Homo sapiens: one gene and its partner. The protein of the gene in region 1 purifies or fractionates together with the protein of each later gene. This does not show direct contact. Each region holds a gene or a part of one and is shown on either strand. Other genes may lie near its edges. The genes, in order: RIPOR2 and MYOF.

The links.
Region 2: the proteins of RIPOR2 (region 1) and MYOF purify together in Homo sapiens (affinity purification with western blotting, with the first as the bait; one study listed by BioGRID). This does not show direct contact.

What each region holds. Positions count from the first base shown.
Region 1 is NC_000006.12:24,803,520-24,807,020, reverse strand, and holds the end of RIPOR2 (rho family-interacting cell polarization regulator 2), read left to right. Parts: intron 1-547; coding exon 548-648; 3' UTR 649-2,737; downstream 2,738-3,501. UniProt on the Homo sapiens protein: Acts as an inhibitor of the small GTPase RHOA and plays several roles in the regulation of myoblast and hair cell differentiation, lymphocyte T proliferation and neutrophil polarization.
Region 2 is NC_000010.11:93,472,137-93,475,960, reverse strand, and holds part of MYOF (myoferlin), read left to right. Parts: intron 1-3,824. UniProt on the Homo sapiens protein: Calcium/phospholipid-binding protein that plays a role in the plasmalemma repair mechanism of endothelial cells that permits rapid resealing of membranes disrupted by mechanical stress. Involved in endocytic recycling.

The DNA of each region.
Region 1 (3,501 bases):
CCTAACTGTTCAAGGTGGCGTTACGGACAAAACTGAACTAGCTGGTGGCTGGTAGAAGGCATCTCTGTATGTTTACATAGTAAAAAGTAATTTTTAGCTGAAGTTTGAAAGCCTAAGATTGATTTTACCACATATCATTTAGATGTATCGATATATAATGTATACAAGTAAAAGTTATGTAAAAGTTCAGTGCATTAGCCATATTGAAATCCCTAATGTACTTAAAATATAATCCATACAATTGCTCTAAAATAAATCGATTATATGAAATCATCAACATCAAATGGCCATAAGACTTCTACTCTGTTTCATACCCTGGCATTCTTTTGGTCTCTGGCATTAATTAGCTCAAAAGTTCTTGGTTGTTCTAAGCATTACCTGGAAAACAATGACATAATTAGGAATAACAAAAGATAACTTTTCCTTACCAAAAGTTAGCATAGCATATTATAGCAACCCATCCCTAAACAAATGGCACTATGTTACTTTGAGTAATTAATAAAAACGTTGTTTGAATTGGTATTCATGTTTAATGTTCTGTATTTAGGAGAAGATGGGCGGCTGGCATATGAACAATTGGACAAATTTCCTCGAGACTGTGTTAAAGTCGGAGGTCGTCATGGAACTGAAGTTGCCACAGCCTTTTAATTACAGGTTAACTGCCTAACAGCTGTCTTAATATCTGGCCCTTTTCATCAGGATGGTGCTGTGGTTTGGGCTGGAAATTGTTTAGAGCCTGAGAGACACGACAACTGAAATAAAAATGTAGGCCAGGTGCAGTGGCTCATGCCTGTAATCCCAGTACTTTGGGAGGCCAACGCAGGAGAATTGCTTAAGCCCAGGAGGTTCAAGACCAACCTGGGCAACATAGCAAGGCCCTGTCTCTACAAAAAAAATAGTTTAATTAGTCAGGCGTGGTGGCATGCACCTGTAGTCCCAGCTACTTGGGAGGCTAAGGTGGGAGGATTGCTTGAGCCCAGAAGATTCAGGCTGCAGTGAGCCATAATTGCCCCACTGCACTCCAGACTGGGTGACAGAGCAAAACCCTGTCTCAAAAAACAAAACAACAACAACAACTAAAAAAACATGTTATAGAAAGAATTCAGAGTCTCGTTTCACAGTACCTATCTACTTTTCCTTTGGCCAATATAGAATAGGGCTATGGTATAATTCAAATATATTACATCGTCGATTGTGTCTAATAATACTCAGTGAAAGAGTCCATCTTATCTTAATATGTATGAAATTTAAAAATAGCCATCTTTGTACTTTTTTGCAAGTTTCTCTATAAGCTTGAAATAGTCATGTGATACTTCGACAAACATCATATGCCTTGCAGTTTTTCTCGGTCGTGTTCTCAGGGTTGAGTAGTCCCCTTAGCTACCTAACTTTACTTTCAATACAAAGCACAAAAAAGAATATCTTCAAATAAAAGTTTGCCTGCAGAACCTGGCAAAATGACCCATTAGGAGAGTTTAGATGTTTTAATTTTATGTGCTCCCAGCTACTCTGGAGTCTGAGGTGGGAGGATCACTTGAGGCAGAGGTTGCAGTAAGCTGAGATTACACTACTGCACTCCAGCCCATGTGACAGAGGAATGAGAGCCAGTCTCAAAAAAAAAAACAAAAAACTCCCATAATTTATTTTGTTTCTTTTCCCCATCCTGAAAATTCCCAAATCATGTTTCCATTATGGAAAAATGATAAGTAAATGACTAAGAACTACATTAAGATTATGCCTATACACTTAAACAAAAAACTCAAAGCTTATGCTTTTTTTTTTTTAATTAATGAGAGCTATTTTTTATGATATTCTTACCATAGGGGTGTTTTGCTGCTAAGACAAATCAAAACCAAAAGCTGTAGATTCACAAACCTGTGATGCTCTTTGAGGTGGAGGAACCTAGAAGTCAGAGAAATCCTAATGGAGTAGGAGTGGAGGAACATTTAAAGTGGTCCCTCCTTCTGTAAAAATGACCGTGGGATTAGAAAGAAGGACATCCTGAGGGGTGGTTACTGCCCCCAGGGAAATCACTCACTGGTAGGATTCCCTGGCCAAATAGTTCAAACATCAGGTCCCATTATTGCTTCAGTATCAGAGATGCAAGTTCATTAAGCAAAGTACAAGACCATTCAGTAGCTCTTATTAAAATATCTTTTCTTCCTCTAAAGAGTGTACAAGGTGGGGTATGCCAAGGTATCAAAACAATATATGTGAGTGTAATTTAAACTGTGGAATATCAACTGTACTATGGACGTGTTTGTATCATTTAGATGTCATTTTAAATATTTACATTTTAGCAAGACTTTTAAAAAGGACTCATTTCATTTCAAAGTGCAAATTGTTTGCCAGGCTTCTGGCAAATGGTTCTTTCAACTGTGAACTTATCGTGTACATATCTGTATATTTATAAATATTATATATATTCATACATCCTTCACTTTAAAGGTACATTGTACAGTCTGTAGTTAGGAGGTATAGCCTATAGCTTATGTTAAATGGTTGAAATGGTTCTTTTTATAGAAAGTCAAACACAGATGTTACAGGATTTTGTGTTTGGTTTGTCATTTTTTTATTTTTTATTTTGACTATTGCATGAGTAATTAATTCCAGATCTTTTGTATTCACTTCTGTATTTTATGTTTGGTTGAGGGGTGCTTTTAGTTGTGTGGCATTTGTATTCATTGATCTTTCAGTCATGTAAGTTAAAATAAAAATTATTTTTGAATTACTAGCATCATGTGCAGTCTGATGTTATTTTTTTTCACATGCCCTTTCTGAGTTGGTATTTACAGAACACACTGCACCTCATTTTCACCTTTATTTTATTTTATTTATTTATTTTGAGACGAAGTTTTGCTCTTGTTGCCCCGGCTGGAGTGCAACGGTGCGATCTCGGCTCACCGCAACCTCCGCCTCCCGAGTTCAAGCGATTCTCCCACCTCAGCCTCTCGAGTAGCTGGGATTGCAGGCATGCACCACCACACCCTGCTAATTTTGTATTTTTAGTAGAGATGGGGTTTCTCCATGTTGATCAGCTGGTCTCGAACTCCCAACCTCAGGTGATCTGCCCGCCTCGAGCTCCCAAAGTGCTGGGATTACAGGTGTGAGCCACCACAGCTCGTGCTTTTATTTTCAATTTGAAATTCCTTTATCTCTAAATAGAGATAATAAATCTCAGTTTGTTGTAAAGCTAATTGGAGAGAAAACAGCTAAGTTTCACTGTTGTATCTATGAGCAGAGACTGTGAGCTCCTTGAGGGCAAATAGGCATGGTGGCTTACCCCAAGATCGTGCCACTGCACTCCAGCCTGGGCAACAGAGTGAGATTCTGTTTCGGGGAAAAAAAAATAAAAAGTGCCTTCACTGATTTGTGTATGTTCTGTTCCCACTCAGACCCCACCAGCATCATCACAAAGAAGCCCTTGACTTTCAACTCTGACAGTATTTACCAAGTGACTCGTTAAATACCAGTGATTGCTTTTACTGAGTCAGTGGTACA
Region 2 (3,824 bases), on another chromosome or scaffold:
AGTGGCCCCACCCTATGGAAGCATGGGAATTCTCAAAGGTACACTCCCCAAAGGCACATTCTGCAGGGTCTCAGTCATCTATAAAGCTACAATGGCCCTTAAAAAATTAATTAACGTGCCTTGTTTTTCTTTCCTCCTTCACAACACATCTCACCTGCGTGCCCTCAGCTTAGGGGTGCTGGTATTTGTCTGGTATGGGTTTTCCTTTCTAATCACGGGTGTGTTTCTCCTTTACTGTAGGATTTGGCCCTGCCAAGAAGGTGTGGGATTGTTATATCCTCTGCAACACCCAGCACATCACTGATGTTGAATATACATTTTAAATATTGAGCATGTAGCAAAGAACTGGCAGGAAATTTCAGACACCTTAATGTGACAAAGTCCTTGATGCTTAGTCCTGAAAGAGACCCTGGGAAGTCATCCAATTGCCCTTTACGTTTAATATCCTCTCAGGTGTTTGTGAATGAGGCTTAGCAAAGAACCATGTCAAGTATTCATGAACCCTGAGTACAACCAGTTCCTAGCACCTGTTCTCTGGGGGCAAATTGGTGTATAAGACATTTTGCATTCTTGTTCCTGGCAAGGAAAATATGAAGCTGCCAGTTTTATGTTGAACCTTCATACATGAAACGTAGTATATAGAATGCCATGATATGGCAGTGGTCAGCTGACTCACTGTGTAATTTCTATTGAACAGCTGTTCTGTTGCACTGGGGTGTGCTTTGAGCAGGTCTGAGCACAGTTCTCAATCAGAAAAAGTTATGGGACATTTGATACCTTAAGCCTTATCAATTAACTTCTTACTGGGCATGAGGGTACAAAGGCCCTGAGCTCTGGGGCCAGGGATGCCTAAATGAGAATTCCAGTGGCCATCCCTAGTTGCTCATGAGCAAATACAATCTGCAGCTTCAAGCCCGGTCATGATGGCTCACGCCTGTAATCCCAGTACTTTGGGAGGCTGAGGTGGACAGATCACCTGAGGTCAGGAGTTCAAGACCAGCCTGGCCAGCATGGTGAATCCCTGTCTCTACTAAAAATACAAAAAACTTAGCCAGGCATGGTGGTGGGCACCTGTAGTCCCAGCTACTCAGGAGGCTGAGGCAGGAGAATTGCTTGAACTCGGGAGGTGAAGGTTGCAGTGAGCTGAGATGGCGCCATTACACTCCAGCCTGGGCAACAAGAGTGAAACTTCATCTCAAAAAAAAAAAAAAATCAGCTTCAGTGTTCTTAATAATATCTCCTGCCTTGCAGGGCTGTTTGAGGATTAAATTAATGTACATGTGACATTGCACATGGCAGTCTATAAATCTCCTTACCTATTTGATAACAGTTTCATGGAGCACTACAGTGCACCAGAGAGTATTTCTGGAACTAAGTCTAGAAAAATATGCATAAGATGGCTTGGATTTTCAGGCCTAGGTGACCGACTAGTTAGCACACAAGAATGAGATGCAAACCAGAATAGACATGAAAAGTTACAATCTGAGTAGATGAAAGAGTGAAAAAGCTTGTGGAGAAAGTGTCATTTGGCTTGGTTTTAAAGGATGAGTGGAAATTTGACAGAAATAATGGAAAAAAGACATTCCAGGCTTTGGAACAGTACAGGAGGACCAGAGAGCCATGGGGAGGAGTAACGTGGTATGAATAGGGATTGAACTTTACTCATCAACCATTGGGGAGCCGCTAGGCCGCAATGTGAACAGCAGATTAGTACTAGTCAGGGAGACTAGTAAGAAGGCTTACTAGTTGAGTCAAATGCTTCTCAGCACAGATGGAGCTCATCCCAGGACTGGAATCAGAAGGAAGGCACTAATAAGGAAAGACACTGAGGAAACAACCTGATTAAATTAAAGTGATAAGGGAGCCACACTGGACAGGCAAATTTGGCCATCCTTCCTCACACTGTACTGTGAAATGGAACATCAGACTGCCTTGCTTCCAGCTGGAGTGTGCACCCTGTGGGCGAGTGCAGGGCTGGTTGGGGTAGCTCAGCAAGAGGCCAGCACGAGGGCAGTAGCCACCTGAGGCGGCAGGGAGGCCACCAAGAGATCGAACAAAAACAGAAATACAAAGTGATCTTTGAAGACAAATTTTGCTGTCTTCCCAAAGATCAAATGGGGGAGCATTTCCTCAACCAAGCTGAGCCATGGTTCATTTGCATAAGGTCCTTCTCTCCCTAGCCTGTTGTACTATCTGAAAGGATAGGGAGTCATGGTTCAGAATTGCTTCATTACAAGGAGCAGATACCCACTTCAGCGTGCTCAAGGAAACCTTGATTTTTCTAAAGCTAGAAAGAAATCTGGAGTCCAGATCACAGACCTCACAAGAGCCAGAATCATGTCAGCTCCCCTCTCCTCATTTCCCAGGGACTGTGCAGCCTCCTGCCTCTGCTTCTCCCTGCACATGGCAGCCATTACTTTTCTGCATATTGTCTATAATTGTTGGCTCTCTGCAAATTGGCTGTCCTTAGTGAGGCCTCTTGCATGGGCTTTGGGTTGCTGCAAGGTGACTGGGTCTTGACTCTACATCCAACTGCAGTGGCAGCGTCTCGTGCATGAGATAGCTCAGAGAAAAACACCAATTGCCTTGGTTTTGGTCAGATGTTCAGCCCTGCTCCAATTAACTGTGGCCAAGGGGCATGGAAGGCCAAGACAAAGTGGGTAGACCAGATGTGTCTACTCACAGGGCAGCCTTCTGGGGGCCTAGAGTATGAACTCTGCAGCCTGTCTCCTTCCAGGGATTAGATCTGTTCTTTTCCATCTTTACTCTGTTGGTTGACATAACCTCTCACTTAAAAGAACCCCCTTCTTTCTGTAACCAACACAATACTTGGAAAGGGATGACCTTTGGATTCGAAAAATTAATTTTCACTCCTGGTTTTATCCCTAGGAGCTGGGTGTCTTTGGGCAACTATATTTCCGAGCCTTCATTTCCTCATCTACAGAGTGTGGAGAATAATCTATACCTCACAGGGAGGTTGTTGGGAGCAATTGTGATAAAATATATAGAGAACTTGTCGTAGTGCTGACACAGAATGTTGCATGACAGGTGCTCATGTCTTCTGGCTTTTATGCCCCACTTCTTCCCCCATTGCTGCAGGGACATACAGAGTCCTGGGGGACATTTCCAAGGGGTGGCCCAGGCTTAGCTGTTCAGAATAAACAGGATGCTGGTCAGCTGTGGCTGCACAAACAGCTTGAAGGCATTGCCAAAGTAGGTTCTTTGTTTTTAATTGTGGTAAAACACATATAACGTAAGATTTACCATCTTAACTATTTTAAGTGTACAGTTTTGTTTTTGTTTTTGTTTTTGTTTTTGTTTTGAGATGGAGTGTTGCTCTGTCACCCAAGCTGGAGTGCAATGGCGCCATCTTGGCTCACTGCAACCTCCTCCTCCTGGGTTCAAGCGATTCTCCTGCCTCAGCCTCCCAAGTAGCTGGGATTACAGGCACATGCCACCATGCCTGGCTAATTTTTGTATTTTTAGTAGAGGAGGGGTTTCACTATGTTGGCCAGGCTGATCTTGAACTCCTGACCTCAAGTGATCTGCCCACCTCGGCCTCCCAAAGTGCTGGGATTTTATTTCTAATTTCCTGAGGAAATGGCCTACTGTTCTCCATAGATCCTGCACCATTTTGCATTCCCACCAGCACTGCACAAGTGTTCCAATTTCTCCACAGCCTTGACAACACTTCTTTTTTTCTTCTTTATTTCATAATAGCCATCTTAATGGGTGTGGGCATAGTAGGTTCTTAGCAACTCTCTGACTTGGATTTTCAGCTCACACTTGCTGCATTAGCTCAGAGTGAGAATTGCTGCAGTGCA